Regions from separate parts of the Homo sapiens genome. Here all the other regions are linked to region 2. Evidence: fine-mapped expression QTL. A gene starts in region 2. Each other region holds a variant in brackets. All regions are shown on one strand. Distances are between the middles of the regions. Region 1 overlaps ADRA1A (adrenoceptor alpha 1A). Region 2 holds the start of ADRA1A (adrenoceptor alpha 1A). Region 3 has its middle 42 kb from the start of MIR548H4.

The links. PIP is the estimated chance that this variant, and not a neighbour inherited with it, causes the effect. A credible set is the group of variants that fine-mapping cannot tell apart.
Region 1: its variant is the best candidate, but not a certain one, in a credible set for the expression of ADRA1A in esophagus muscle (GTEx, PIP 0.74).
Region 3: its variant is the best candidate, but not a certain one, in a credible set for the expression of ADRA1A in lung (TOPMed, PIP 0.79).

Annotation. Positions count from the first base shown.
Region 1 is chr8:26,837,684-26,848,335 of GRCh38, forward strand. All of the region lies in intron 2 of ADRA1A (adrenoceptor alpha 1A), which reads right to left. Among named protein-coding and RNA genes, the nearest start is that of ADRA1A, 24 kb to the right of the region's middle. The variant A/C (reference allele first, on the strand shown) is at 4,737.
Region 2 is chr8:26,862,447-26,873,098 of GRCh38, forward strand. ADRA1A (adrenoceptor alpha 1A) reads right to left here and starts at 4,832. Exons shown (of 3, transcript NM_000680.4): 1 at 4,490-4,832; 2 at 1,641-3,209. The coding sequence starts at 2,523. RefSeq lists an enhancer at 3,102-4,053.
Region 3 is chr8:27,001,737-27,012,388 of GRCh38, forward strand. It overlaps the pseudogene LOC100132229. Among named protein-coding and RNA genes, the nearest start is that of MIR548H4, 42 kb to the right of the region's middle. The variant G/C (reference allele first, on the strand shown) is at 5,942.

The DNA.
Region 1 (10,652 bases), 25 kb before region 2:
GCTAGATAGCCTGAGGCCTAACCGGTGCCCACAGTGGGGATGTGTTATAGCACAAGGAAAAAAGCTTTGCTTTATGAGAGAATTTTGCAAGGGCTATTCTGACACACACCTGAGTGAGCTGACATGTTTGGAGAAGGCTCAATGAGTAGAAGCTCAGTACCTCCCATGTATGCTCAGAATGTTCCCACTTTTACTGCCTTTGATTCCTATCTCAATACATTACTTTAGTCTCTACCAAAGTAATACGGAAGACAGAATTAGAATTGTCTTTTAGTGATTGTATGCAGTGCAATGTACAACCAGGACAATTGTGTTGTTTTTCCGGCTTGAGTTGCTCCAGTTGGCTGTCTATACCAATCACAAGACTTGTATTTCTCAGGACTGTGCAAAGTTAAGCCAAGTAGTTGAGTACAAACCAGGACAGGCGTTTAATGATACAGATGTTCTACAACATGTTTTCTTTTTTTCAGGCACCAGAAATCTATGTGGTTACTTTCTTTAGTTTATAAGACCACATGTAAGTACTTTGGACAATTGATGTATTTTTCCTTTTTACATTCAGATATTTAACAAAGCAAGGCACAGGTCTAGGCTCTGTATGAATCTATATCTGAAGAAGCCAAGTTGGAGCAGCTTACAAGCAGATCCCAGTCACTGACACCACCTTCCGAGGCTTAGTGATGAGTAGAAAATCCAGACCCTTCACCCCGCTGCTCATCTGAAATAGAGGACAATAACTGGAATCTCTATGCTCTCCAATAATGCAGGACTTGACTTTGAGTCTCTTCAATTTAATTGAACAAATATTTATTCAGGACTTACTACTGTGCTTAGGCCCTGAGGATTCCAAGCTGATAAGACTGATTCAGGTTAGGCCTATGGAATACAATTTAGAGCTTACAAGATGATCACCTAAGCCACTTTCATCATTCAGCTGGTGAAGAACTGAGCCCTGGAGAGAAGGAAGCTTCCCAATGGCACAAAGCAAGGGAGAACCAGGGTCATTCAAAAATTTGAAATGGTAAAAATGTAGATGCCATTACTATCAAAAAAGTGGTAGAAGATAAAGGTACTGTGTGCAAGTCCCTATTCTGTAGCTTTGGCCTTAGATGTGGATCCATTCCTTACCTGGACACAGAGGAAAGGCCTCCCTCCTTAATGTCTGCATAGGGCCACCCCCTCAGGTAAACCACCAGTGTGTCCTCTAATGTGTCCCCTCAGCTCTGGAACCAGAGTTAAGGCCACCTGACCCTCACCATGTGACTAGCTCTATCCTGGACAAGTCAGATATTAAACCCAGTATAATGAAAACCAGGTCTTTACATTAGAGATTTTTATTTCAATAGATATCAAGATAGACTTGCAAGCAAATTTGTGTATTTAAAGCATATGATATAATGATGGACTATGCATGCTAATTATTAGAAAGTAATAAGGGTGCTAGTTAAGTGGTGCTTCACTTCTCTGTGAAGAATTTTTTTTTTTTTTTTTTTTGAGATGGAGCCTCGATCTACGCCCAGGCTGGAGTGCAGTGGTGCAATCTTGGCTCACTGCAACCTCCGCCTCCCGGGTTCAAGTGATTCTCCTGCCTCAGCCTCCTAAGTAGCTGGGACTACAGGCTCCTGCCACAACGCCCAGCTCATTTTTTGTGTCTTTAGTAGAGACGGGGTTTCACTGTGTTAGCCAGGATGGTCTCGATCTCCTGACCTTGTGATCCACCTGCCTCGGCCCCCCAAAGTGCTGGGATTACAGGCGTGAGCCACCATGCCCGGCCTGAAGAAGTTTTTTGACTTCCTAAACTTCAAACTGGAAAACCAGCCTCCTCTGACTGTACCTGTACAATGATTTTGGTCCTTTATTGGGCTTAATTACATGCTAGTCTCCACCTTGAAGTCAGGGTCTGTTCCTGTCTGGCGCCTGGTAGACTCTCAATGTTTCTTGAATAAAGTAAATAAAAGATATTTTGAGATCTTAGTCCACTCTGGGGTGGCTTCCCAGAAGAGAAAAGCTGGGATTTATTTTAAGAAATGGAAGTAATTTGGCGGAAGGAGGCATATTTCTTCCTTAGTGCCCTCACCAAGCCTAGAAAATAGGAGCAGGTCTTGGGGTGGGATGGTGGGAAGGGTGTGTGGGGAGGAAAGGCACAAACTATGTGATTCCCCTATGGCTAGAGAGAAGCTCTCGGAGGCAGGCTAACTCTGCCAAGGTCAAGGAGCAAACAGGAATGGAAGCCTTGACCCTCGGTCCAGCCTCACACCACATGTTCTCTATAGGAGACACCTTTGTACGGAGCTTTGCACTGACCTTGAGAAATAATTTCCATCTGGAATTCTGGGTGAATCACAGGAAGGCAATCTGCAATTTCTCAAGTTTGCACTTGGCTGGGGTTGTTGAATCTATGTTGTAACCCTTATGAAACACTATTGCTCAAGAACATTCGAATGGATGCAACATTTGTAAATTAAAAGCCTGCTGCTTTAATTCCCTTCCAATGGACACAGTTAGACATATACAGAAGTCACAACTGGATGCAGCTGGAGGTTTGACTTTGAGAGGATGGGAGACTGGAAATCCCTGGGCATTTGGTCAGCACAGTAGCAGAGTGCTGGGGTTTGGGAAAGTAGCGGTTGGGTAGGAGAAGGTGTTGCATGCAATATTTTTCTTTCTGGTATTTGTCCCGGGAGATCCATATTGACACCTGAACTTTGTGACACAGTCGAGCCCTGCTCCACTGGCTTCTATACAAACAACATGATGCAAACCAGCTGGGGCCAAAGCAGTTACCATGGAAACCCTAGACTTTGGTTTGGAAAGTAAAAGTAAAAGACATTTATGATGACCACAGCAGTGGTTTGTACCAATGCACTTCTTGGGAAGTTTCTTTTTTATCCTGAACTTTAGCGTTCTTTTTTTTTTTTTCTTGCCCTGTGGAATTTGGCAAAAGAAAAATTTAAAATCAGATTGGAATTATTACCTTCCCCATTAAATAGCTAAAACAGGAAGTCTTGATTTATTCAAACCATATTTGCTAAAGACAAATTTAACTCTAAATGGAGAAACCGCTTAAAGGTCAAGTTTTGTCTTGGATACTTTGAAAGAGTTGCTAAGCATTTTTGTCCCCTATGGAGGCTGGGTTGACACCAGGAAGTGTTATTTGTGTTATTTCCCCTCAAACATTTTTCCACCTCTCAGTAATGACAGGAGAATTATGGCTATAGAGAGCAAACACAGCCTTATGTGGGCATGATCACAGTTGTAGCAAGCCAGTCATGATAGCAGGAATAGGCTGGTTGCATGAGTGCACTGGGTGAAGACTACAGAGGACATTAAGGGCACCAGAGGGAACAGGTTCAATTTCTACTCTGTCACTTACTTGCTGCATGATCCTGGGCCAGTTACTTAACCACCCTCTACCACAGTTTCCTCAGGTTGGAAATGAGAATCAAAATGCCCAACTGCCCCCAAATGTTCACATGGATTCAATGAAATAAAGCACATAAAGCATAAACTGAAATCCAAATGGAAAGCAATCACAAAAAGAATCCAGTGGAAGGGAAGTGGGAAGTAGCAGGCAGATCACGCTGACAGGTTGGCTTCAAGTGACCGTTCCAATCTCAGAGGACCACAGTCTCAAGGCCACCTACAGTTTCCTTTACCACCCACTGTCTGAGCCACCAAAGCCTACCCCACCCTTGCACCTCCTTTCTTACTCCCTTCTAACTGTGAAGGCATCGGGCTTTCCCAGATATCCTTTGCATTCAAATCCTCTCAACCACTGCCTGCAGATTCCCCTCCTTCTGTACTCATTTTTCTTTTCTTGGAAAAAAACAAAAACAAAATTGGACCCTTGGTGGAGCCCTTGATGGCGACAGCACAATCTTTCATCCCTTTGCTTTGTCCTCTCAGGTCCTGGCTCTGTTCCTCACCTCCACTTTTATTTCCACATCCTCCATGACAAGCCTCCTGTCCCTAACATTCAGCTGAAACTGTTCCTAGATCCCAAACTCCTACCCTAGCACAAGAGAAAGCTGGTGGCATTCCTATTTAGTGACATCTCTTCCCAACTCTGCATCAGCTTTGATAGGTCACAAATGACCTCAGATTACTAAACGCTATTTTTTTTCTCCTTTTCTTTCCCCTTGACTTCTCTGCTGCATTTGATATTGGCGCCACTTTCTCTTCACTAAAATTCTCTCTTCTTTTTGTTGCCAGGATTTTATGCTGTGGTGAGTCTCCCACTTTTCCAAAACGTTGTGCAAGTTCTGCTTGTTTTTTCTTCTGCCTACTGATGCCAACATATTCTAACATTCAGCCCTCCTTAGGAGATGACCCATTCCCTTAGCTTTGCTATTTTCTATTCCCATGACTCTCATCTCAAGAGCTCTTCTTCACCAAATGCCAATTATTTCTGCTGATCTCTAGGTCAACCCTGTCCAACAGAACATTCTGAGAGGATGGAAATGTTCTCTGCCTGGGCTGTTGAATGCAGTGGACATTAGCCATATGGAGCTATGGAGTACTTGAAATGCAGTTAGCCTGACTGCAAAACTGAATTTTTAATTTTATCTAATTTCAATTTCAATTTAATTTATTACATGTGGCTAGAGGCTACCATATTGGACAGCATAGTTCCAGATAGTTTCACTTAAACACCATCATTTCAGGCAAAATATGATCAATACTAAAGGTTTTCTGGAACCAACTCCTCTCCCAGCCTCTCTGTCTATGGACAACTA[A/C]TCCCTACTGCATGCAAAGCTCAAAAGCCTCTTTTATTAATTCCACTCTGATTCCTCAGACGCAGTCTCTGATTCCCATTGACCTGCCTTGAAATATCCCTGTTCTCTCCCCGACCTTCTGTATTTTACTGCCACACCCCTGAGCAGGTCCTCATTCAAACCTAAACAGCCAGCCTGAATCTCTCACTTCAACACACCTTGCGATCACTGCAGACCGGATCTTATTCTAACACTGCTCTGCAATGTTGCTTCCCTGCCTCAAACCCCCAGTGGCTCCCCACTTCCTCTGATTTCATGGCCAAAACCTTTGTCTGGTTTTCAAAAAGACACCCAGAATAATATCATCCCTGGTCTGGGTCAATAATATTGTCCCACCAAGTCTGGATAATAATATTGTCCCACCAAGTCTGGTTTTCCATGACTCTCTCTCTCCCTCTCTCTCTTTCTACACACACACACACACACACACACACACACACACACACACACCACTCAAGGATTATCTCACAAGCTCATGAATGTGCTGTGTTCACTCCTGTCTTGGAGCTTCTATTGGCTTTTCAAATCCGCTATTGGCTTTTCAAATTCTACCTTTCAAGACCCAGTTAAAGACTCCTTCCCTCTATGGAAACTTCCCTAATTAAGACCTGCCTGGCATATCTCCCCTCTGGATTCCTAGACCATTTATAATGAGTGTTATCTTGTCCTGATGACTATTGTTTCAAGTGTGCTATCCTTTTCCCCAGATTAGACTTGAAGAAAGTGGCTCTTCTTCTTCCTGACCTCCAGAAGACTTAGCTCAGAACCGAGCCCGCAGCAGATGCTCAGTGCTTTGTGAACATGTCTTGATTCATCAGCAAGTGCAGGATAAGAACTGGATGTGACAACATCTGAGAGCTCAGTGAACATTAGACTCGCCTTGTTAATAATTTACTCCCTTTGTCCCCTAGTTTCCTGCTCATCCCTCTATTTCTCCTGGCTCTTTTCAGCTTCAATTCCTCTCATTTGTCCACTTCTTCCCTTTGTCCAGTAAACCACATGGGCTGATCAGGGTTGGAGTAGAGAGTGTAGGATTGTCTATTTTCTCTTGGAACTGATGGCCATGGTGAACACCTTGCTTGCCATATGATCAACATGGCTCTATGAGGCAGTTAAAACTATGTAGACAAAATTTTTTTTGTCAGATAAAATGAGGATAAAAATACCTCCTCATCAACATATAGAGGAACTATGGAATTAAATGAATAATGAGTAATGGGCTAAGAATATAGGATTGGATGTACCAGAATCACAGTGCAACTGCCTCATGGAAAAGCTGGGCATTTTCATCTTAAGGGATGATCCAGAAGGGCAAAGTTTAAAACAAAGGAACTGATTCAAGTGCAATATTTTACATTGTGTAAATATCTGAAGGAATTCACAAACGGACCACAATGGCTGCAGAGACACAGTGGTAAAGTGCTTAATAAATTGGCGAACACGTGTTGTGCCATAAATGTTAGTGCATGAAGCAAGTTATGATTATTTGTTTCCCTTTGTGTTTTTCTAATCAAAGATTTAAAAATCATGGGAGTTTTGAGCATCATGAGATAACAAGTATTGTGATACAGGTCCACCATTCCTTTTCCAAAAACTTTGGTATTAGATGTGTTTTGGAAATCAGGATTTTTCAGATTTTATAAAGGTCATCTGGATCATATGTTGTATATTGTATACTACTACCAGTGGGATATGGGTCAGCACCCTACAATCAAACACAGAAATATTTCTGCAACACAACGTGTAAAATATAAAATCTACAAATGGACTCACCTGAGTTCAGATTGAGTTCACTGCCAAATGAGTTCTGATAAGGTCAGATTTTGGCCCCAAATTATTAATCGAGAACTTGCAATTTTCAGAGCTTTTGAACTTAGGAATACAGACATTGTGTACCTGTCCTATTCTACATCATTTTCTTTAAAAAGAGGTAGTCTTTTTGAAAGTTTCTATTAAACTTTTAGAGATGTAAAAAATAGTGGGTAGTAATTACAGAACTTACTACAAAGCTACAGTAATCAAAACAGTGTGGTACTGTCATAAGGATAAAGGACATATGAAATGTGGAATACAATTCCATTTGATGGAATAGAATTTAGACTCCAGAAATGAACTCATTTATCTATGATCAGTTGAATTTCGACAAGGGTGCCAAGACCACTCAGTGGGAGAAAGAATAATTTCTTCAATAGATGATGCTTGGACAATTGGATTTCTACAAGCAAAAGAATGAAATTGGAAGCTTACCTCCTATCATGTATAAAAATTAACTCAAAATGGATCAAGGACCTAAGTGTAACTATAACTCTTAGGAGAAACTATAACTCTTAGGAGAAAACATAAGGATACATTTTTGCAACTTTGTCAGGGGTGTTCAATCTTTTGGCTTCCCTGGACCACAGTGGAAGAAGAAGAGTTGTCTTGGGACACATATAAAATACACTAAAACTAACAATAGCTGATGAGCTTTAAAAAATTGGAAAAAATCATAATGTTTTAAGAAAGTTTATGAATTTTTATTGGGCTGCATTCAAAGCCGTCCTGGCCATGGGTTGGACAAGCTTGAATTAGACAATGACTCCTTAGATATATGACACCAAGAACACATGCAACAAAAGAAAAAGTAGATAAATTGGATGTCATAAAAATTAAAGACAGCTGTCCACCAAAGGATACTATCAAGAATGTGAAAGGGCAACCCACGAATGAAAATATTTGCAGATCAATTATCTGACCAGGGTCTGGCATCCAGAATATATTAATAACCCCTGCAACTCAACAATAAAAAGACAAATAACCCAATTAAAAAATGGGCAAAGGATGTGAATAGATATAACTCCAAAGAAGTTACATGAATAGCCAAACATGCATATGAAAAGACACTCAGCATTATTAGTCATTAGGGAAATGCAAAGCAACATCACTAGAGATACTATTTCACACCCACTAGGATGGACATCATTTTAAAAAATGACAAGTAATGGTGAGGATGTAGAGAAACTAGAGCCCTCAAACATTGCTGGTGGGTATGTAAACTGGGGCGTTTGCTGTGAAAAACAATTTGGCAGTTCCTTAATTAGCTAAACGTAGAAGTTCCATATGGCCGAGCAATTCAACTCCTAGGGGTATACCTAAAAGAACTGAAAACTGGTACTCAAACAAAAACTTGTACATGGATGTTCATAGCAATGCTATTCATAGTGGTCACAAGGCAGAAATAACTTAAATGACCCTCAATGGAGCAACAGATAAATAAAATATGGTACATTCATACAAATAAATAGTATTCAGTCATACAAAAGGAATGAAGTCCTGAAACATACCATAACATGGATGAAGCTTGATAACATTATGCAAAATGAAGAGGTATACACAAAAGGTCACATATATGATCCCATTCATATGCAGTATCAGGAATCAGCACATCCATACAGATTGATGGCTGCCAGGCACTTGGGGAGTGGGGAATGCCGAGTGATTGCTAATGGGACCCAGATTTCATTCTGGGGTCATGAAGTGCTTTGGAACTAGATAGTGGTGATAGTTGGATAACATTGCGAATGTATTAAATGCTACAGAATTTTACAATTTAAGATGGTTAAAATTGTGAATTTTACGTTATGTGAATTTAATTACAATTAAAACAAAGTGAGTAGACAAATATTGCCTCTTTGGGGACCTCAAGGCATCTGGAGACCTCAGGGTTTGTTTGGTTCATGTGTTTTGTTTTGTTTTGAATCACTAGCTAAGATGTTGGCAACACAGTAAACAAAAGCTGAACAATAATAATAATTGATGTCTGCTTTAAATGTGCTGTTTCTGATGTATTTTTGTAAATTTCAGGAATTCCTGTAGCATAAACCAGAGTTTGTTAATCTTGGCACTATTGCCATTTTGGGCTGGTTAATTCTCTGTTGTGGGGGCTGTCCTGTGGTTGTGGAACATTCGGCAGCACCCCTGGTCTAACCCACACAATGCCAGCAGCATCTCCCACCCCAATTGTGACACTATGACAGAAAGAGATCTTGGGCCAGGCGCAGTGGCTCATGCCTGTAATCCTAGCACTTTGGGAGGCCGAGGTGGGTGGATCACTTGAGGTCAGGAGTTCGAGACCAGCCTGGCCAACATGGAGAAACCCTGTCTCTACTAAAAACATACAAAAACTTAGCCAGGCGTGGTGGCAGGCACCTGTAATCCCACCCACTTAAGAGGCTGAGGCAGGGCAATCACTTGAACCCAGGAGGCAGAGGTTGCAGTGAGCCGCGATCGCGCCATTGCACTCCAGCCTGGGTAACAGTGAGACATCGTCTCAAAAAACGAAACAAAAATTATTCACAATAGCAAAGACTTGGAACCAACCCAAATGTCCAACAATGATAGACTGGATTAAGAAAATATGGCACATATACACCATGGAATACTATGCAGTCATAAAAAATGATGAGTTCATGTCCTTTGTAGGGACATGGATGAAATTGGAAATCATCATTCTCAGGAAACTATCGCAAGAACAAAAAACCAAACACTGCATATTCTCACTCATAGCTGGGAATTGAACACTGAGAACACATGGACACAGGAAGGGGAACATCACACTCTGGGGACTGTCGTGGGGTGGGGGGAACAGGGAGGGATAGCATTGGGAGATATACCTAATGCTAGATGACGAGTTAGTGGGTACAGCGCACCAGCATGGCACATGTATACATATGTAACTAACCTGCACATTGTGCACATGTACCCTAAAACTTAAAGTATAATAATAATAAATAAAAAAAAGAAACAAAACAAAAGAAAAACACTAACAAAAACAAAAACAAACAAAAAGAAAAACGTCTCCAGACCTTGCCAAGTGCCTCCTGGAGGTCAACATCACCCCCGATTGAGAACTACTAATGTGACCTCTTTAGGAAAAGTTTATTATCCTGGGATTTTTTCCTCTCCTAAAGTTTCTTTTTAAAAACCCATTTCTGAGATTGTTCTTTAGTAATTTCCAAATGACAGCAAACTCATGAAACAAAACAACATGAAAATTCCAGGTAAATGTCCAAAACCTTTTTCATTAAGAGGAACTAAACTACGCAGTCCACTTGTAGACAGTAGGTTTCTCACTGGCAACGAATGCCCTGGCAATAAGCTAAATGTGGATAGCACATAAAAAAAGTGAATGTGCAATGTTCCCTTTTCAAACCCTTTTTGGGCAAAGACGACTGCTCTGCCAGCATTCCAGTATAATGACAGCTCATGTGCCCTTTGTCAACCTTGCCTCCTTCTCCTTTGAAAATACAAACCACACTTCTTCCCAAACTTCTTCTGATACCATTTAATGAGTCTGGGATCAGACACTGTTAGCACAGAGAGCAACCTGTGCTCCAGATCCCCCTCAGCAGCCGCTGCCAGCAGGAAGGGAGGGCTGAGTGTTCAGGACGCAGGGTTCCCTGGCTGCTTCACCAGCGCAGTGCTGCCTTTATCCATTTTATGTCTTGGATTTCTGAGTGGGATTTATTTTGCACAAAGAGTTCTGAAGCTGAGAAGTTTGAAAGCCACTGGCTCAACCCAAGCCCCTCTCCTACAGATGAGGACACCAGAGTGCAGAGCAAAGGGCAGGACCACGTGTGATTCCAGGGCTTTTAACTGTAGACAGGCCCCTTTCCTCTGTTACAGGGAAGGCAGCCAGGCAGCTCCTGCAAGATGTCACTAATCCCTTGCGTGCCTCAGTTTCCTTATCTCTACATGAGCATAGCAACCTCCATCTTCCTGGCTACTTCTGGGATTTAAATTAGACACAGTAAGTGCCATGCAAGTACCACTAATATGGATGGAAAGTTTGTGTCCTCCCCAAATCCACATGTTGAAACCCTAACCACCAGTGTGATG
Region 2 (10,652 bases):
ACCCTTTCCAAATACAACCGTCTCATTGGCAAGGACTTTTCTGCCCTGTTCATCCAAAGTGCCTAGAACAGATGGTCCATAAATACTTGTTGAGCGAGCACACGCATGAATACGTGTGCAAAGGGGCTCAGGTAAAGAGTGTAATTTCTATAATTTCAAAGCTGTGATGTACTTCCAGGAGCAGAGTAAGTAATAATGATGGGCAGGCACAATGGAAGGCCAGGTATTGGATTAAGGAGGGCCTCTCTGGCAGCCCTACAGGACAGACATTTCTGCAATGATAGAAATGACCTATATCTCTGCTGTCTAAAACAGTAGTCACTGGCCACGTGTGACTATGGAGCACTTGAGATGTGGTCAGTGGGACTGAGGAATTGAGGAACTGAAAGAATTTTATTTAATTTCAATTAACATTTAAATAGCTATCCTTGGCTGGTGGCTATGGTATTAGAACCTGAAGAATCCCTTCCCATGGCTTGTGATTGCAGGATAATTGTGTATAACTCACTGAGTTGTCGAGGGGACTAATGAAATAAAAAGCTTAGGAAAATGTCTGGAACATAAGTGGCACAAAAAAATAATAGTTGCTATTATTCCACAGAGTTGCAAATTAAAGTACTTTAAGTATATGCCATTTAAATTAGGCTGTAAAGCACTTGAAATGGACTTTTATTAATGTTAGGCATAATGTTTTGTTTTTTAGAGTTGGTGGATAATCGATGTTTGGGTCTGTATTTGAGCTTACAAACTAAAAATAGCACACAACCATTTTGGGATCTCATTGAAGGAGATAGATGTCTATTCCAAGTGGATCAGCTTGCTGATACTTATAATGAGCTAATTAATTTTGACAACAGCTAATTTAGCATCTGCAAAAATTGGATTTGTAACATTATGTGTACTGTATTATTTTCAAACAGTGTTATCTGCAACTTCCCGGATGATTTTGGATAAGAGAAGTGTTTGTTTTAATACTTATTATTAAAATAAAAAAATAAGTATTTACTTATTGGAAATACTATGATTAATTATTTAAGGCTTAAATTGGTTTGGACATAAAATCATTTTTTTTTCTTAGTGGCTGACCATAATTCCTTCCATACTGAATCCAGAAAATAAAATTAGCACAGATATAGAACATAAACAGACCATTATAACAAACCCTTATGAATAACCTAATGCAATAATAAAATCACACATTTGTCCAGAATAAGCATGGTACTTATTTTCAGGCCAAGAGAATTTGCATTCTGTAGCAGAGTGAAAATGGCATTCCACAGTCAGCCTAAGCACTTGGTGGAGACTCTGAGACTAGAGAGAGCAGATGCATTTAAATTGAACACGTGCTTATAGGCATTAAGAAAAGTTGACATTCTTATTAAAGAGACCAATTAATCTGCATCAGTTGGAAGCCACTTTACAGTCGAAAAAGTGCTCTAGGACCTAATATAAATGAGACTGGAGTAGAAAGAGAATGAAAATTCACTTTTCTACAAGGGAGCCTTTTCTAATTGCCCTAGAGCTGTGCTGTTTGAAATGCTAATCCTTCCTCTTCCATCCCGGACTGGGAGTCTGGGGTAACAGAAGCCGAGGAGGGTGAAGACCCCCAGATGCTAAAGTGAGGGGTGTTCAAGACTTACCAATGGGCATGACTAAGAAAAAAGGCAGCCAGCAGAGGACGAAGCAGCCGACCACGATGCCCAGCGTTTTGGCCGCTTTCTTCTCCCGGGAGAACTTGAGGAGCCTCACTGAGAAGTGCGTCTTGGTCTTGGCGCTGGCCATCCCGCTGCCTCCTGCCGGGGCGTTTTTCCGATGGATGCGGAGCGTCACTTGCTCCGAGTCCGACTTGTCGGTCTTGAGGCCAGACTTGAGGCCCCGGCTCTCCCTCTTGGCCACCACGTAGACGCGGCAGTACATGACCAGGATGATGGCCAGAGGCAGGTAGAAGGAGCCCAGCGCTGAGAAGAGCACGTAGCCCGGCTCCTCGTTGATCTGGCAGATGGTCTCGTCCTCGGGGGCCGGCTGCCTCCAGCCGAACAGGGGTCCAATGGATATGACCAGGGAGAGTGCCCAGACGCAGAGCAGAGCCATGAGACCCCTCCTCTGGGTGACGATGGTTGGGTAGCGCAGCGGGTAGCTCACGCCGATGTAGCGGTCGATGGAGATGATGCAGAGGCCCATGATGGACGCGGTGCAGCACAGCACATCCACTGCCGCCCAGATGTTGCAGAAGACCCTGCCGAAGGCCCAGTAGCCTAGGACCTCGAAGATGGCGGAGAAGGGCAGCACCGTGGAGGTGAGCAGGAGGTCGGCCACCGCCAGGTTGACGATGTAGTAGTGCGTGACTGAGTGCAGGTGTCGGTGACAGGCTACGGAGAGGATCACTAGGATGTTACCCAGCACCCCGAAAAGAATGAGGCCCCCCAAGATCACCCCGAGCAGAATGGCCTTGGAAATGTTCACCGGTGCCGGCGGTTGGGTGCAGTTGGAGCTGTCGGAAGCATTTCCCGAGAGAAACACCATGGTCCCAGCCGGGGCCGGGCGAGGTCCGGCTGTCCAGGGCCACCTCCCGGGCTGGCGCGGAGGCGGGAGCGCGGGAGCCGGGAATCAAAAGGTCTCGGCTGGAGGGAGCCCTGCCAGGTGGGTTTGGCTGGGGGTGAGAGCGCGCGCGCGGGTGGGAAACAACCCTGGCCAGCCCTGGGAACCCTCAGAAGGCCACATGAAGGGGCAGGGCATTAAAGACATGGCCAGGGGCGCGCGGGGCTGCCGGGGACCCTCTCCACCTGCCGGGCTGGCCTAGCCCGGGACCCGGACTCCCTCCCTACCCGAAGCTGGGTGCGAAGATCCAGGAGACTCCTTGCAACATGCAATTCCAGAATTACGAGAATCTGCTTTTCCGCGCTGTCTTATTCGTCCTGGCTGGGGGAAGATTCAGCATTCTGCACATGATTCGGAATTCAAAACTCCAGCGCCAGTCTCTCCCTCAAACCAAAAGATCAGCCGTCGACGCTCAAAGGCAGGGACCGATGGTTGGGTAGCGCAGCGCTACAGGTTGGGCGCTGCTCCTGGCCCGCAGTTACCTACATTTTGAGCTGCCCCACCGAAGGCTCCTGCTCTCTCCAGCTTCTAGGAGCACAGGTCAGGGGACGTAGGTGTGGAATATGTGCTGAGACCCAGGAGGCTGCGGGGCATCGTTTGACCGCGTCCACCTGAAAGAGCGCAAAGAGAAAGGCGGCTTTGAGCTAGGCGCCCCAGGGAAAGAGGCTGTGCTGAGCTTGACGGGTTGGGGGACACCAGTTGGGAGCCGGGTTGGTTCTGCGGTCCAGAAGCTGCTTCGCCCGGCAGCGGTGGAGGCGACTTCGGAGCTCATCTCGCGCCCCCACCACTGGGAACCTGCCTAGCGCACTCTACTGAGTCACCTCTGCCCGAGTTCAGGATCCGAAGCGAAAAACAAACAAAAAAACAAATCCCCAAAACCCCAGGCTCCAGCGCTCGAAGTCTGGATTTCGAGCGCAGGTACCACGAAATTAAAATCCTCGAAGCCCCGGAGGGGCGACTGCGGCTGGCGAGTGTGTCGCACGGATCCTAGCCGGGGAATTCTGGAGGATGTACTCGGTTTCCGTTAGAACAGGTTGCCTCGCAGTCACCTGGAGGGGGCGGCCTGGGAGAGGGAACAGCTGCGACCCAGGGACCTCAGGGCCAGGACCACGAGCACGCTCACTCTCACGCCGGTGGAATTCGCACTCGGGTGTGCAGAGCGCACCGGTCTGTCCACCAGCCAAGCTGGCTTGAGAGCCAGGTCCCGAGCGAAGCCGGGAGGGACCCGAAGACAGAAAGCGACCCAGGTCTGTCCACGACGCCTTTCCAAGCCTCACTGTTGGCCACCCGAGGGGCTCCAGCTGCCAGCCGTAGCGGGACTGGCGGGGGACGGGGTGGGGAGGACGTCCCTCTGCAGAGGGAGCTTTGCAAGTGACAGTCACTGCGGATTTTGCAGGCGTAAACATTAAGCCGGCATGCCAGCGGGCAGGGGCCGCCTTCGATTTTCTGGGCTGGGGGCCACCATCTGCGTAAGAAACCTGGGTTTCCACAACTGCGAACCTACCGCAGGGACTCGGCAGGACAGCGCGGCGTGAGGAAGTGCCCACCTTGCCTTCTGGGGTTGGGCCCTGAGGTGGGACCTCGGGCAAAGACTCTTGTTAAAATCGCAAGTTGGAGACCTCACAGGTGGTATTAAAAACGTGCCACTGCAGAAACCCTTTTCCTCCTACCTCGAGGGTGATAAACACAGGGTTAAAAAGACACTTGTTCAGTAGAAGGCAACTTCGCAGAAGATGTAAGGGAATCGGGGGTGGGGTAGAGGGGCCGGTATAAAACCTGGTGGAAAAAGCGGGAGGCGCTGGGAAAAGTGGGGGTTCCGTCTCACCAGACGGCGGGGGAGGTCTGCCCTCACCCACTCGGCCCTGCGGGACGCCGGCCCCGGCGCACTCACCTGAAGCGCCGCTGCTGAGCCACCAGCTCGCGCGCGGGGGATGTGGACCCGGCTTCGGTCCCGGGAGCTGCCTGCCTGCTCTTCTCTGGAGGCGGAGAGGGGACCGTGTCTCCGAGGCACCAAATCCTTGTCCTTTTGCACCCGCTGACTCACCCCTCCACCACTGATGTCTTTAAGCTCCTGAACCGCTGTCACTTTACCTGCATTTTTTAAAAAGAGTCAAAATAAGAAAAGAAAAAAAAATGCAGATAACCGGTAACTCCACAATCACCCTTTTAATATTCAGCTCCCCGACACCAGAAAAGAATAGCAAGGAACTTTGCAGCTCTCGCTGACGTAACTCAGGCAGTAGCCCAGCTAGTACCGTAATCTCCTGCTGCTACCGTATTACTCTACGGCAACAGGCACAAGTGCGTATACAGCTGTAATGTTTTCCTCTGGCCTAGAGGGGGTTGGGTTCTAGCGTTTCTTTAAAAAGGTTTGTGTGTGTGTGTGTGTGTGTGTGCGCGCGCGCGCGCGCGTGTGTGTGTGTAGAGTCATTTGTAGTAAATAACTTCTTTAAATGAGCTTTTAAAAATAACGAAAAATTGACACCCTTGCTAGATATTGCTGTGTGTATGGTGTGTTCATAGGAATGTGCTATAAAGTAACTTTGAACAGCTTGATTTGATTAACATTTGGCCTAGGTTTTGTTAAGATCAAGAAGTATATTAAGAATATTGTAATTCTAAATATGCAAGTAAATTATAAGGTGTTTTAAATAGCAAGTAAAATCAGATAAAATATGACAAATCTGATTGTAATGAAATTATATTTTCAGGAAGATAAAGTGGACATATCTAAACCTTATTTAATATGATTCACTTCTAATTTCTTTAGACAGATGAATTTTAAGAGCATTATGGCCACAGAGTTTGGTATTTTTTAAATGCCACACAATCTTTTCCAGTTTTCTTGAGAAAATGGTATCCTTTCAGGAGTGTTACTCTCTTTAATTCATTAATAGCTGGAGTATGAAAACCTAGCACCACCAGTCTTATTACTTTTTTTCTGGTAAATTACATAATCTGTTTACCTTGTGATTGAATAAAGTCACATGTGTTTCAGAATATCGGGAACATAGAAAAATGTTTCCCACTCCAATTCCCACCTCCTAAGTCATCTTTCATCTTTATTGATGCAGACAAAGTGGAATGTTCTTATTTACTAGGTCTCCTTAAACCTAGGAACAAGGAGATAACTTTAAGCAGTGGCACTTAAATTCTCTCCTGTGAACAAAATCATATTAATATGATTACCTTTTCTAAGTGAGATAATGTTTGGGAGGCTCTTTTATAGCAATAAATCTCAAAATGCCTCAGAGGAATGCCCATGAGAGGGTCAGTAAATCCTATGTCATGGAAGACCTAATATATGTATTTATTTCTCTATTGTATACAAAGTCCTCCACCTCTGCCTCATACCTGTAGGGATAGAACTCACACCTAACACATTTGATTTGAATTTAATATATTTTTAAAACTGAATTTCGTGCCATAGGAGGAGCATCCTGGTTGAACAGACAGCTCCACTTCTCATTACTAAGTCACCTGCTCTCTCTGGGATTCAGTCCCCTTAGGAGGAAGCTTGACCTCAATTCCCTGCACTTCTAGTACTTTATCATCAAATATGTGTATAATGTCTGTGCTTCCGAAATCCCATCCATCAGAGGGATATACACTGTTTTGTTTTGTATTCATTAACCTGATGCTGTGAATGCAAATTCTTCATTAAGATGTGTTCCATGGTAGATAAGGGAAGCAGTGCTATCAGCAAGCAAAGCAACTGAAAATTGCTCAGCTCTGCAAGGTCGAAAATTGCAAAAGTCTTTGTAACTCCCAGTCCCCACTCTACAACAATTAAGAATACACATAATCCACCCCTGCACCCACCTCCAATAATTAACTAGTTAATACTAAGATAAGGAAGAGCAGCTCTTCATGCTGCTAGCAGGTAGGTCTTTCAAATCTGCTTCTCAGCCTGTGACCATCAATCCTTGCAAAACGACCTCTCAGAACCAATTTTTCAGTCACCTACCATTGATTCACAAACAGAAAACTATCCATCTGTTGGTTACTCTTTAAAGAATAGTTGACGTGGACATCCCAGAAAGTGTCTGAGTTGTACACATGGGTAGGTGGAGTGGAGAGGAGTATGCTCTGGGGTCATAAAGATGCTATTCTGACCCTCCTATGCGACCATGGCAAAGCCTTGGTTTCCTAATTTTTAAAGGGAGACAATGAACCCCCACAAGGTTGTTATTAGTGTTGAAAGAAATTACGTTTCTCAAAAACTCAGCTCATAATATTCACTAACTCTATTATTAATCTTATTAACTCCCTTTCTGCTCATTTTGTATGCTACTTTATAGTGAAATATATTTCTAACCCAGGTAGTCCATGAACACTGGTAAATTCAGCTGGAGAATGTGCTAAGTGTCTTGAGCACTACACTTGAGCTAAGTGGTTTAATCAGAATGACCCAACATGGTTAAGTTGCAAGAGCTGGCCCTGATCACTGGCTGCTTCTTTTCTTCTCACTTTCCCCCTTGTTCTTTGTCTTGAGGGGCCATGCAAATGTGTGTGAACACCTCAGCCCCTACAGCCAGAAAGCTGCCTTCTTGGCCTCAGGCCTTGGGGTACACACATTTGTGATGTTGTCTGCCCAGAGAGAATGGACCTGAAAGTGATTGTGTGGCCATCTGGGGCAAGGGATTCTGAGTCCCAGGGCATGGTCTAGAAAGGAGGGCACAGGCTCCAGGTGGGCATATCACATTAGTCCTATGGCCAAAAGGAGTCAGAGCTGGACTCTCTAAAGCCTGAAACCCTAGCCGGGGTCCCTCTTGCCTGGCTCTGAGGGTGATACTCTGAAGACTTCCGGTGTGACAGAAATTGAAGAATCCCCTGAAGGGGTGGTTGTGGAAAGACTCATAAAATGATATTGCTTGATGTAGGATTTGTGGAATCAGCAGGATTGAGATTTGTAGACAAAAGTGAGGAAGGTGAACCATCAGCAGCCGCATTTTAGAGTGGTGTGTCAGGGATGCTGGGGGAATGAGTCTGATTGGAGAAGAGCTGAGCAATGGACATAAACCCATGCATTGATTGGCAGGACTTTCTTAGTGACTAGTGAGGAACTCGGCAAGTGTGGTAGGCTTAGAGGTTTAAAAAAATAAAGAATCTGTCTATCATTCCCTTAGAAAACAATACACAATGGAATTAGGAGCTGTGTTCTGGAATTTATGATTGCAAATGACAGAGTAGAAGACTTAATGTTAGTATCTACCCCAAAGACTTGGCTTTTCAACTAATTCTCCTAAGGCTTAATAAGTTAAAGAGGCAAGAAAATGAAAAACAATTCTCAGAAAGGTATTGATGCAGTATCAAGTCACAGCTCTCCAAAGAAGCATTGTGTTCTAATCCTTTATCGAACTGAGAACACTGCACAGCCCACAGATACTGCTGAGGGATGTCTTTGATGAGATAGTAATTCTGTCTTTGCCATCATTTTTCCAAATCTTCATTGCCCTGAGAAAATAACATACTCCAAGTCTTGGGAGTCATACCACCCCATCCCTACACTGTGGGACTATCATGGTAGGAATATGAGGTCAAGTCAGCCTATAGCTGATCAGCAAATAATTCCTTTAAAACAATAAGACTTTGCTCTCGCATAGCAAATCTAAGCTGAGGCATATTAATCAAATTTTTTCAATATCTTTGTCAATATCATCTGGAAATGGAAGTAAAAGAAAGTCAATATGTGTACCAAGTGCAGACACATTTTTATCTCATCTCTTCACTTGCTGATGGGCTGTTATAGGCACTTTAAAATGCTTATTGACTTGTATTTAATTATAAAATTTATGCTCATAATAGCACATTTGGAAAAGTCAGACAGAAATGTATGAAAATAAAAATTATCTGTAATCCTGCCACTGGAGAAATAGCTATTGTTAAATATTTGTCATATTTTCTCATTTTTTGTTAATGTGTATAAATTATATACATGGAAAAATATATATACACATGTACATACCAGGAAATATTTTATGTACATGTATTTATTATGCATACATATATATTTCACATATTATACATTGTATACATTATATAAAAGAGTGTAATCATACTGTACCTATAATTATATATCTTACTTTTTCACTTATATTATATCATGAACTCATTCTATTATTACATTTATACCAAAACATGGTTTATAAGAGCTCCACAGTGATTCTATTATATGTATATGCTATTGTCTGAATGTTTGTGTTCTCCCCAAAATTCATATGTTGTAGCCTAAATTCCGAGGTGATGGTATTAAGAGGTGGGGTCTTTGTAAGATGATTAGGTCACGAGGGTTCCATCCTCAGGAATGGACTTAGTGCTGTTATAATAGAGGGAGCCTCTTTGCCCTTCTGCCATGTGAGAACACACAGAAGGCGACATCTATGAAGAATGGGCGCTTGCCTAGCATCAAATCTTCTGGCACCTTGATCTTGGACTTTGCAACTTCCCGAGCAATATATTTCTTTTGTTTATAAATTATCTAGTCTAAGGTATTTTGTTATAGCAGCCTGAACAGACTAAGACACTGTATGTCATGACAAATTAAATATTTAAATATTCAGGCTTTAAAAAAAATTCTGATCTATAACTTGAACTGTGGTAAATCCTCTTATTTATTTATTATTTTACTTTAAGTTCTGGGATACATGTGCAGAATGTGCAGGTTTGTTGCATAGGTGTACATGTGCCGTGGTGGTTTGCTGCACATATCAACCCCATCATCTAGGTTTTAAGCCCCACATGCATTAGGTATTTGTCCTAATGCTTTCCCTCCCCTTGCCCCCCATCCCCTGACAGGCCCCAGTGTGTGTTGTTCCCCTCCCTGTGTCCATGTATTCTCATTGTTCAACTCCCACTTATGAGTGAGAACATGCGGTGTTTGATTTTCTGTTCCTATGTTAGTTTGCTGAGCATGATGGCTTCCAGCTTCATCCACGTCCCTGCAAAGGACATGAATTCAATTCTTTTTTATGTCTGCATCGTATTCCACGGTGTATATGTGCCACATTGATAAATACTCTTACATATAATATTGTACTCCAAATTTTCCTTAAGATTAATTTCTGTAACTAAAATTAGAATAACAAAGGTTATGAACATTTAAGAGGTTATAACAGATATTGACCTCTAGAAAGGTTTTACAAATGTAGATGTAAAATATAAACTCCCAATAGGAGTGCATAACAGAACCTGTTTTTTGTTTTTTTACTTATTTATTGTTTGTCTCTTGCCAACTTTGACTGTTTATAATAAACTAGACAAGTACATAATATATGTAAATAAAATAAACCGTAGGCAATTTTATAAGTAAAAAATAATATCTCATTTTTTAAAATTTGTATTCTTTAGTTATGATTTTATTTCTTTACATTTATTTGGCATTTCTATGTTTTCGTTTGTGATTTGCTTGTCCGTATTTCTGCTAGCCAGGTGATATGGTTTGGCTCTGTGTCCCCACACAAATCTCATCTCAAATTCTAATCCCCATGTGTCAGGGGAGAGATCTGGTGGGAGGTGATTGGATCATGAGGGTGGGTTCCCCCATGCTGTTCTTGTGATAGCGAGGGACTTCTCATGATATCCGATAGCTTTAAAAATGACAGTTTCTCCTGCACTCCCTCTCTCTCCTGCCGCTCTGTGAAGAAGGTGCCTTGCTTTCCCTTCACCTTCCACCTTATTATAAGTTTCCTGAGGCCTCTCCAGCCATGCAGAACTGTGAATCAATTAAACGTCTTTTGTTTATAAATTACCCAGTCTCAGTGTGAAAACAAACTAATACACCAGGATTTGGTCAGAAACTGCTGTAGTTGTTTCACGTAGGAAGGATTTAATACAGGGAATCAGAGGCTTATAATATTGCTGGGAAATATTGGGAAACAGATTAGAGAAAGCTACTGTTAACCTCTGGGAATTCTGAAGTGCAGGTGTATCAGGAAACCGTGTTGGTGATTTCAGCTGCCTAAAGCACCAATGATGTGCAGGTCACCCAGGAGATCCTGGCAGAACCTCACCTCTACTGTTGGCTGAAGTCTTCATCCTTGCACAACACTGCT
Region 3 (10,652 bases), 140 kb after region 2:
GCATGAAAACTATTGTTCATTTTCACAATTTTAATAACATTTGAACAACAGTTTACTTATTGGTTGCCCAGTATTACGAACCAGATTTAAATTTCCAAACAACAACCAAAAACTATGAAATGGTTACTTCATTTAGTACAATTATATTTTATGCAAATGAAAACATATGGGCCGGGCAAGGTGGCTCATGCCTGTAATCCCAGCACTTTGGGAGGCTGAGGTGGGTGGATCATGAGGTCAGGAGTTCGAGACCAGCCAGGCCAGCAGGGTGAAACCCTGTCTCTACTAAAAGTACAAAAATTAACCGGGCATGGTGGTGGGCACCTATAATCCCAGCTACTCGGGAGGTTGAGGCAGGGAACTGCTTGAACCCGGGAGACGGAGGTTGCAGTGAGCTGAGATCACACCATTGCACTCCAGCCCAGGCAATAGAGTGATACTCCATCAAAAATAAATAAATAAATAAATAAATAAACAAAAAAGAAAACATATGTCATCTCTCCCTAAAAGAGAAACCCAAATCTCTTTAGGTTAAAACTTTTCAAGACTGTAGTGACAATTACTTCCTTCCTCTGCTGCCCATTCCACATGCGCAGTCATGGGCTGCATAACAACATTCTGGTCAACCACAGACTGCATATATGATGTGGTTTCATAAGATTATAATGGAGCCAAAAATGTTCTAGCATCCAGTGACATCGTAGCCATCTTGACATCATCACCATCATAACGTCATAGCACAATACATTATTCCCATGTTTGGTGGTGATGCTGTTGTAAACTAACTTACTTTTAAAGTCATATAAAAATATAGCACATACAATTACGTATAGTACCTAATGCACGAGGTTGATCATAAACCACTATCTTACTGGTTTGTGTGTTGAGTATACTTTTTATTGTTATTTTAGCGTGTACTTCTTTTGCTTATTAAAAAAATACTGTAAAACAGCCTCAGGCAGGTCCTTCAGGAAATATCCCAGAAGAAGGCATTGTCGTCGACAGCTGCATGCCTGTTATTGCCCCTGAAGGCCTTCCAGTGGGGCAAAATGTGGAGGTGGAAGACAGTGATATTGATGATCCTGACCCTGTATAGGCCTAGGCTATATGTGTGTTTGTGTCTTCATTTTTAACAAAAATATAAAAAGTAAAAAAAAAAAGAAAAGTAAAAAATATAAAAAAGCTTAGAGAATAACGATATAAAGAAAGCAAATATTTTTGTACAGCTGCACAATGTGTTTACGGTTTTGTGTGTTTTTTTGTTTTTTGTTTTGTTTTTTGTTTTTTTGAGACACAGTCTTGCTCAGTTGCCCAGGCTGGAGTGCAGTGGTGTGGTCTTGGCTCACTGCAACTCCGCCTCCCGGGTTCACGCCATTCTCCTGCCTCAGCCTCCTGAGTAGCTGGGACTACAGGTGCCCGCCACCATGCCTGGCTAATTTTTTTGTGTGTTTTTAGTAGAGATGGGGGTTTCACCATGTTAGCAAGAATGGTCTCGATCTCCTGACCTGGTGATCCGCCCGCCTAGGCCTCCCAAAGTGCTGGGATTACAGGCGTAAGCCACCGCACCCAGCCAAGCAGTCTTAAATGACCAGTTTAACCTCTCATTGAATGGAAATACAGTGTGGCCCCTAAAGAAGCATTCTTCTCTTGGAGACAAAGACTCTTAGGGGAGGAGGAGAAAATATTTTGCAAGTGATCTAGTGGTATAATAACAAGGGATGCCATTTTATCTTTCATCACTGGTTTATAGATCCAAGTATTTTGGCTGTCAGAAAAAGAATATCTACAGGTTTCTTGTTCAAAATATATACTGTGTTCTATAGAAAACCATGTCTCAGCAGTACAATGTATTACCTGTATTACACAAGTCAAGTATTATATGAGACCATTCAACTCTACTCTAGAGTAAGCTGATTTTGGTAAATGGAAAGACCAGGAAATCTCATGAATGTAAGGCTATTGTGTTACTTACTTGCTATAAAATATCTCCCTTTTTCAAAGCAGTGTTGTGTAAAATGCCATGATGGTGATCAACGTATTCAGCAAATCCTTATGTTATTAGTGGCAGAAGCATTATGTACAGTGAAGGCAAATATGCATCCATGATATGTGTCTATTCCAATAAGGGCAAATCACAGTCCCCTCCATCATAGAAGGGGTATAATATACCTAACCTGCCACCAGGTGGAGGGTTACTCTCCCAAATGTATGATGTGCCAATCAGGATTGGCTACTGGTGCTGACAAGTTGGGCCCTCAGCAATGGTGTTCAGGACAGCCTTGGAAAAGGGGGAACACATTGTTACACATGTCGTTTATAATGTGCCCTTAACCACTGGACACACTGCAAGATGTCACTGCATGGAAGAGAAAACCAAATTTTGCACATTCTCACTTATAAGTGGGAGTTAAACACTGCGTACTCATGGACGTAAAGATGAGAACAATACACAATGGAGACTACTAGAGCGGGGAGAGAGGGAGAGGAGAATGGGTTTTAAAACTACCTGTTGGGTACTGTGCTCACTACCTGGGTGATGAGATCATTTGTATCCTAAACCTCAGCATCACGTGATATACATGTAACAAACCTGCCCATGTACCCCCGTATCTAAAATAAAAGTGAAAATTATTTTTAAAAAAGACTTCACCAGTGCGAGACTCCATCTCAAAAAACAAACAACAAACAAACAAACAAAAGACTCCACTGCACTGCAAAGCCACAGTACTGCGTTTTTCATCCTCAGCTATACATGTCTTAAAGAGGCATGCTAGTACCTGCTACTTTCTGCTCTCCAGGTTCTGTCTTCATGACATCCCTGTTACAGAAGGCCAGGGTGATGTTCTGGCATGATGGTGAGATGATCAAGGCTCCTAGAATCTCTATTGTGATACAGAACTGAAAATTGCCATAACAGACATCAAAGAGTAACAGTGGATTCCTGATTTTTTTTTTCGTGTGAGAGCAACTTTTTTCTGGGTTCTCTGCATATTGGTATTGAAAAAACAAAGACAAAAATTATAAAGCTTATGAGTAGCTGCACACAGTTGCTAGGAGCTACAGTTGCTGTTGTCACTTGATTTACCTTGCCATAATCTGTCATCTTCCAAGATGCTTCCATATTCTTCACAGATCAGTTGGTGAGTTGAGATGAAAATGTGACAAAAAGCACCATCCTTGCAACTTTCAAGTCTTTGATGGTAACAATGACCTTGACAATTTCACCCATTTGCAAAGAAACTTTAGATTTACTATTCTGGAGGAAAATAACAGTTCCACGGGTTCTTATTTGGATATTTCTAACATAATAGGCCTTCCTCCGTGGATCAGGGAGCCAGGCATTTCTTTCTAGCCATGCACACAGTTAACTGGGAAGGATAGCCTTGGAGTTCTACTCTCCTCATAAGGTAGACTCCAGGAAAAACAACATTTCTCAGATAGCCTCCGTAGCAAAGCTGGTAGACTGTAGTGATGTCATGCATTCCCAGACTTGTTGAACCAGTGTTCAATAATCTCTAAAATATCTAGGTGTTTTCCTTTGTTATTGTATATGGGTTCCCTAGTAAAAGGGCTCAGGTCTCTTTGGGAGAAGGGTGGGAAGAACAGTGATCACATGTACTTGTGATGTTGTCAAGACTCCAGCCTCCTCTTCATTCAAAGGGCTGTGAGTTTTTGAGCTGATTCAAATGCAGGAATTGGGTAAGAGGCTGTTACTCTCTATTTGAGGCTCAAACCAGACCTTTCTTTATCCATCCTGAAGTTTTCTGTTACGCAGACCTAATAGGACATTTGTAAACTATCCATGAATTTTGTGTCAGAGACTTTACTATCCCTTAGCAAGTAGCAAAGATCCCTGTGGGTTGAAGCATGTACTTCCCACTGTGGCTCAGCTGCCTAATATTTGGTCCACACCCATTTTATCTCTGACAGTTGGATGCTGCTATTTGACATCCAGAAAGACCATGTCAGTAGTAGCATCTTCCACTCACGTTATTGCCTAAAGAGAGCCAGCTAACGAGCTTTTTAGAGATGTTGATACTCCCCACCCACATGCAGTTATCTACATCCTGGTGGGTGCCATGTCTTCCATGCTCACTCAGGTATGAGGTTAAGGGATAGATTAGTGGACAGTCCAATCTTCTACATTCCTATCTCTCTAGGACTTTGGTATCTTTCTTGCTCATTGCACTGAGGAATTTCTGGCATATCAATTTCTCTTAAGAAGGCCACCACTGAATTCAATTTAATTCTGCCAAAAGAGCAAGTTGCTAGAGGCACTTCAGGGTGGTCAAGCTAATTATTTTAACCTAGACTATCTTTACAGAGTATGCCTAATGAAATATTTAGCCTAATCCAAAACTATGTCCAGCCCTCTCTAGCCTAAATCCCTCAGAATCTGTGAATCACTATTCGAGGGCTTATGCTGGGCCCTGTTGGCCAGTGAAGGCTCTCAGGTCTAATCTGGTAAGACAAGACACTGGCACAAGTGAGGCAAAGTGACTTTGTTACTCACATGTAGTCACAAGGATAAACACAAGCCTAGGGTCCACGGCGAGCCAGCCTTTCAGTGAGAAGGAAAGTGGTGCAGTGCAGATGGAATCTCATTGGTATGTGTTCCACATTCCACTGCAGCTGAGGGACCCTGGAAGTATTTCGTTCTGGGTTTTATACCCTGGGTGCAAATTGGATTGCTGAGCATAAGTACTGCAGAACATCCTAGTCTGGGAGGAAGGAAGATATAGCCTGAGATGTTCTGGACATTTCCTTCTTATCTTAGGATGTTGCATTGCAAGCAAGAGAGGGAAGAGCTGGGCCGGCCAAGGCTATCCAGGGACCTGTCCTGCAGGCAGTACTAAAGTTTTCTCAGTTACATAGACTTAATGGGACCTTAGAGAACCATCCATCATTTTTTTTTGCCTAGAGACTTTACTCTCCTTTAAAAGTATGTGTGAAACATACTTTTAAAAAGTTTCTGTTAGTGGGCAGTTCTTACAAATCGTTGGTGTGTAAACCTTTTCCTAGGTATGATTTGTTTTTAGCATCCCAGGGCCCACAGGGTTCTGCACCTAGTTATACGTTAGAGACAATGTCTGGGAGGGGTGGGGAGGAGGCCTGGAGGACATTTTAAGAGGTTAATGCTATGAATGAAGCCATTAGGAGGTCTTTAAGCAAGGCAGGAAGAGGATCATCAGATTTGGAAAGAGGGGTGTTTTCCATTATACAGGTCTTTGGGGGTTAGGAGTATAAGGCCCCCAAATCCTCTTCTTTGGTCCAGTTCCCATATTCAAGATTATAGTCATTCCTCTTTGATGCCTTAATATCCACCAATGAAATCAGGCAATACAGTGAATTCCTCTGACTCTGAATGTTGGCAACCCTCAGACTCAACCCTTGACTTTGATTTTTGGCTACAGAAGCCCTCTGTCTGCAGTAAAGATAAGTGATTCTTTCAGCACAGCCATAGAAATCAAAGAAAGTCCCTGGTTTTCTGACCATGCCTTGGGCTAACAAATACTTTGGAAATTGTTTTCTTTCTTTAAGCTCTTCAGCTCAGAAGCAGCCAGCTTACCTTATCATCCTTGCATTCCATTTACTTGAAGGCTTCTTGACAGCAGACACTTCTAGAATCAATTACTACACCCACCGGGGTTCTAAGTTGCAAAGAGCAGGGCTCACTGGAGCTAGTTCAATCAGGAATGCAATTTATTAAATCACATGAGAGGCTCCTGGAGACTGCAGATGGGCCAGGGAGCAGCTTGAACAATGGCATGGACAGCTTGCTCCAGAGGAAATCTGACAGGTGTCCTGCACATTGTGTCACAGCCTGCTCCATGATGCTAGATTGGGGGGTGCCACCACTGGGACCTCTTCCTGTTATGTCTCAGCCAAGACCCACTAGCCTTCCTGAAATGCTTTAAGGGCATCACCCCTTTCACATCAC[G/C]CTTTTCTGAGCTGGAATCTCCAGTGAGTGCATGGGACTGGCAGAGCTCATGCCTCATGCCTGCACTTTGCTCTCAAGGTGCTAGGAAAGCAAGGTGTTCCTTTAACTTTGGGTGAGAGCACAAGGTGAGAAATTCTGCAAACTTTAGATAGGGATTCAAAAGGTATTATGAATACTTTACAAATATGAAGGTAGCTGTGGACTTTAACCAATGCCCACTGCAAAGAGCCAGCCCCAAATGTTACCTACCCCAAATGCCACCTCCTATCACCCAATCTAAAATGGCCCACACCCAGGATACTCTTTGTGCATAGTCACATCTTTTAAGGCATATATCATATTTTGCAACTATCTTGCTGATGTATTTATTTGCTATTTTTTTGTCTCTCACCTAATTAAAATGTAAAGCTTTAGAAGAGCTTAGCACAGTTCCTGGCAGATGGTTGGTACTCTGTAAATATTTGTTGAATTAATGTAGCTGTAAAATGAGATGTTTCTGAATAATGATCTTAATGCTGGTTTTCAAATTGTCTAACACTTTTTTCTCAAGGTGCAGCTGGATGGCCACCTAGGTGGGGAATCCCCATCTGGGACCGAGCTCTCATCTGTCTCTGCCCCTGCATCAGCCCAAGGAGTTTAATCTCTTCATTGTTAGCTAAACAGTAAACAATAGAGTTTTTAAAATTACCTATTTAACAGTGAGTTTTTTGACACCTCAAATTGTAAACTATTTCCTCCCTGGGTTAAGTCATTTATACAGGAATTGTTGGTTGCTACAATAAAGTGAGACAGATGACCTTAATCAATAATTTTGTATTTTTGAGATCCTTACCCTGAATTGGAAACCTACTAAGTTGTTCATCTGTTCAGAACCCTACAAGAGCTTGCCAATACCTAGAATACTAACTCCTCCCCCAGCAGCACTCGGAGCCCCTGACAACTTACTGTCCCCCTTTCTTTCTATCTTTGTTTCCTTCTGTCCTGCACAATGAGCTCACATTTCAATCCATGTGTGATGAACACACTCTCAGAATGCCAGAACTGAAAAGGACTCAAAAAGCAATCTTGTTAAACCTCTTGTTTTAATACAGGAAAATGCTAAATCCCAATGAGGTTAACTGATAGAAACATAGTACACACTACTTAATATTTCATTGACTGAGTAAATTTCCCAAGATCATACTCCTACTTAGTGGAATAGTTCAACTTTGAAAGCAGTCTCTGAGCATTTTTATCCAGTGTTTAAATTTTTGTTTCAGTCCTAGTAATGGATAACATTTACTGAGCACTCACTAAGTGCCAGGTATATACAGGAACACATTTAATCCTTGCAACACCCTTATGGAGAAGGTTACTATTGTTATCCTACCTCAAAGCTGAGAAAACTGATGCACAGTAAAGCTTATGTAATTTAATCATAGCTGCACAGTTAATAAGTGCCAGAGTGGGGATTTGAACTCCAGAGCCTGTGTGCATAATGACTGTGTGATTCTGCCTACTGTGGGCTGAACTGTTTCTCCTCAAAATTCATGCATTAACTTCCTAACCCCAGGAACTCATAATGTGATTGTATTTGGAGATAAGGTCTTTAGAGAGCTAATGACAGTAAAATGAGGTCGCTGGGATGGGCCCTAATCCAACAGGACTGGTGTCCTTATGAGGAGAAGAGATTAGGACACAGGCACCCACAAAGGGAAGACCATGTGGGACGCAGGGAGAAGGTGGCCATCCACAAGCCAAGGAGAGAGGCTCAGGAGAAACCAATCCTGCTGACACCTTGATCTCAGACTTCCAGCCTCCAGAACAGTGAGAACATAAATTTCTGTTGTTTAAACCACGGGGTTGTCCCTAACCTCCAGACCGTGGACCTGTATTGTTCTGTGGCCTGTTAGGAACCAGGCTGTACAGCAGGAGGTGAGTGGCTGCGGGTCAGTGAGCATTATGGCCTGAGTTCCGCCTGCTGTCAGATCAGCGGCAGCATTAGATTCTCACAGGAGCACAAACCCTGTTGTGAACTGCGCACGCGAGGCATCTAGATTGTGCGCTCCTTATGAGAATCTAACTAATGCCTGACGATCTGAGGTGAAACAGTTTCATCTTGAGACCATCATCCCCCCTACACCGCCCCCAGCCCCCGCCATCTGTGGAAAAATTGTCTTCCATGAAACCCGTCCCCGGTGCCAAAAATGTTGGGGACTGCTGGTTTAAACCACTCAGCAGGCCGGGGCGTGGTGGCTCACGCCTGTAATCCCAGCACTCTGGGAGGCCGCGGCGGGCAGATCACGAGGTTAAGAGATCGAGATAATCCTGGCCAACATGGTGAAACCCCGTCTCTACTAAAAATACAAAAATTAGCTGGGCATGGTGGCGCATGAATGTAGTCCCAGCTACTCAGGAGGCTGAAGCAGGATAATCTCTTGAACCCTGGAGGCGGAGGTTGCAGTGAGCCGAGATCGTGCCACTGCACTCCAGCCCGGGCAACAGAGCGAGACTCAGTCTCAGAAAAACCAAAACAAACAAACAAAAAACAACAACAACAAAACCCTCTCAGCCTATGACACTTTGTTACAGCAGCCTGAGCAAACTAAGACACTGCCTACACGTGCATACGACTCCCATATCTCCCAAAGCCTCGGTATCTTCTTTCATAGCATTCCCTCCATCTCCAGTGTTCTTTGTCCCACTTTTTACCTCCCTTCTTTCATCCCTCCATCATGTCCCTATTCTTCCTGGACCACCTTAGTTACTATCTCCTCCATGAAGCTTTTTAAAATTAACCCCTAGCCTTCCGGAAGGAAGCGGCTAACTATGGCGACCGCCATGGAGCAGTGGGTTCTGGTGGAGATGGTACAGTTGCTTTACGAGGCTCCTGCTTACCATCTTATTTTGGAAGGGATTCTGATACTCTGGATAATCAGACTTCTTTTCTCTAAGACTTACAAATTACAAGAACGATCTGATCTTACAGTCAAAGAAAAAGAAGAACTGATTGAAGAGTGGCAACCAGAACCTCTTGTTCCTCCTGTCCCAAAAGACCATCCTGCTCTCAACCACAACATCGTTTCAGGACGGAGTCTTGCTCTGTCACCAGTCTGGAGTGCAGTGGTGCAATCTCGGCTCACTGCAACCTCCACCTCCCGGGTTCAAGCCATTCTCCTGCCTCAGCCTCCCGAGTAGCTGGGACTACAGGCACAAGCCACCATGCCGGCCTAATTTTTGTATTTTCAGTAGAGACGGAGTTTCACCATGTTGGCCAGAATGATCTCGATCTCCTTTTTTTAATTAAAAAGTAAACTTTAATGTCGAAAATGCAAACTTGGGGAGGGCAGAAAGATCACACACAAGGCTGTCACTTCACACTTGGAAGGTTGCGCCGCCGTCCTGTCTGCAAAGTGAGGAGTGCCAAGTGTGATCCGCCCGCCTGGGCCTCCCAAAGTGCTGGATTACAGGCATGAGCCACCACGCCTGCCCTGCCGTGTCTTCTTTCTCCTCCTAAGCAGCTGTTTTCGTCTCCTGAATTTTGATGTTCTACTTAACACCCTCATGTTCTTACGCATGTTGCCCTGCTGGAGGCGTCCTTCTCTTTGGGAAGCCTGACCCACCAACAGTGCCTCAGGAGATAGACATGGAAGCTTAGCCGGTGGGGGCCCCCCGTCTCTATCCCACCTCAGTTGCAGGGGAGGGGTCAGTTGCAGCTGCAGTGGTGGCCCCGACAGTTTTCTTTTGCGGGACCTGTGGCCGGCAGCTCTGGGTGGAGAAGACCTACTTGATCCAAGAACTGCAGGATCCTTGGGCTGCATGTCCTCCCCCACCATCAGCAAGCCTGGAGAGCTGGGCAGGTGGTCTTTACCCAGCACCTTCAAGGCCGCCTTCTCTGGCCACAGGGAGCAGCCCGGAACTGGGGCAGGGAGCACTGTTGGAAGTGGGTCAGGCTTCCCAAAGGGAAGGATGCCACCAGCAGGGCTGTGTGAACTGGCGACTCCATGGCCCTTGGAGTAGAAACTCACTGCATGCACCTGGGCCTTGTCAGTCTGGTTCTTTTCTGTCAAGCTCTTGAGGTGGACATTTCCCTCCAAGGGCCTGGGATTGTACCAGGAGGAAGTGAGGTTTCCCTGAGTCTCCAGGGGCCTAGAGGTGGAGGCTGCTTCCCCATTGCTACAGGGGCCCATTTTATTGTCCTCCTGCCCCTGGGTCTCTACCTGGTCTTTCACCTCCGTTGCTTCTTTGGGCTCTTCTGCCCTCACCTCCATCTTCAGGAGCCTGGCTGGGATCACCTGCTCATCTAATGAAGGAAGTTGAAGGTTAAACTTGCCTCTGAGACGAGGGATCCTCACGGGGCTGAGGTGTCCAAACATCATGGAGTTGCGAGCAGACAGCATGGGTTTCTTCCTTGAGGGGGGGCTCCAGACCACAGGAGGCAGGACCTTCTGTGGGGTGCCCGTGTTCCGAGAGATAAGACACAGCCTGACAGGGGCGCCGTCCCACCTGACTGGAAAAGAAGGCCCAAGGTGTCGCTGACGGTTGAAGAGGAGTGGGAAACGGCCCCAGATTCCCGGGGCAGGCACAGGTGCGGGAGCTGCAGGGTGAGCCCGGCCAGCTGGGAAGGCCTCACAGACAAGACGAGCAGGTTGCCGATGGCGTGGCCAGGACCTGCGGTGGGACCAGGAACAAAATACGCTTAGTGAGTTGCCCATTTTAAGCGAGTTGTGCA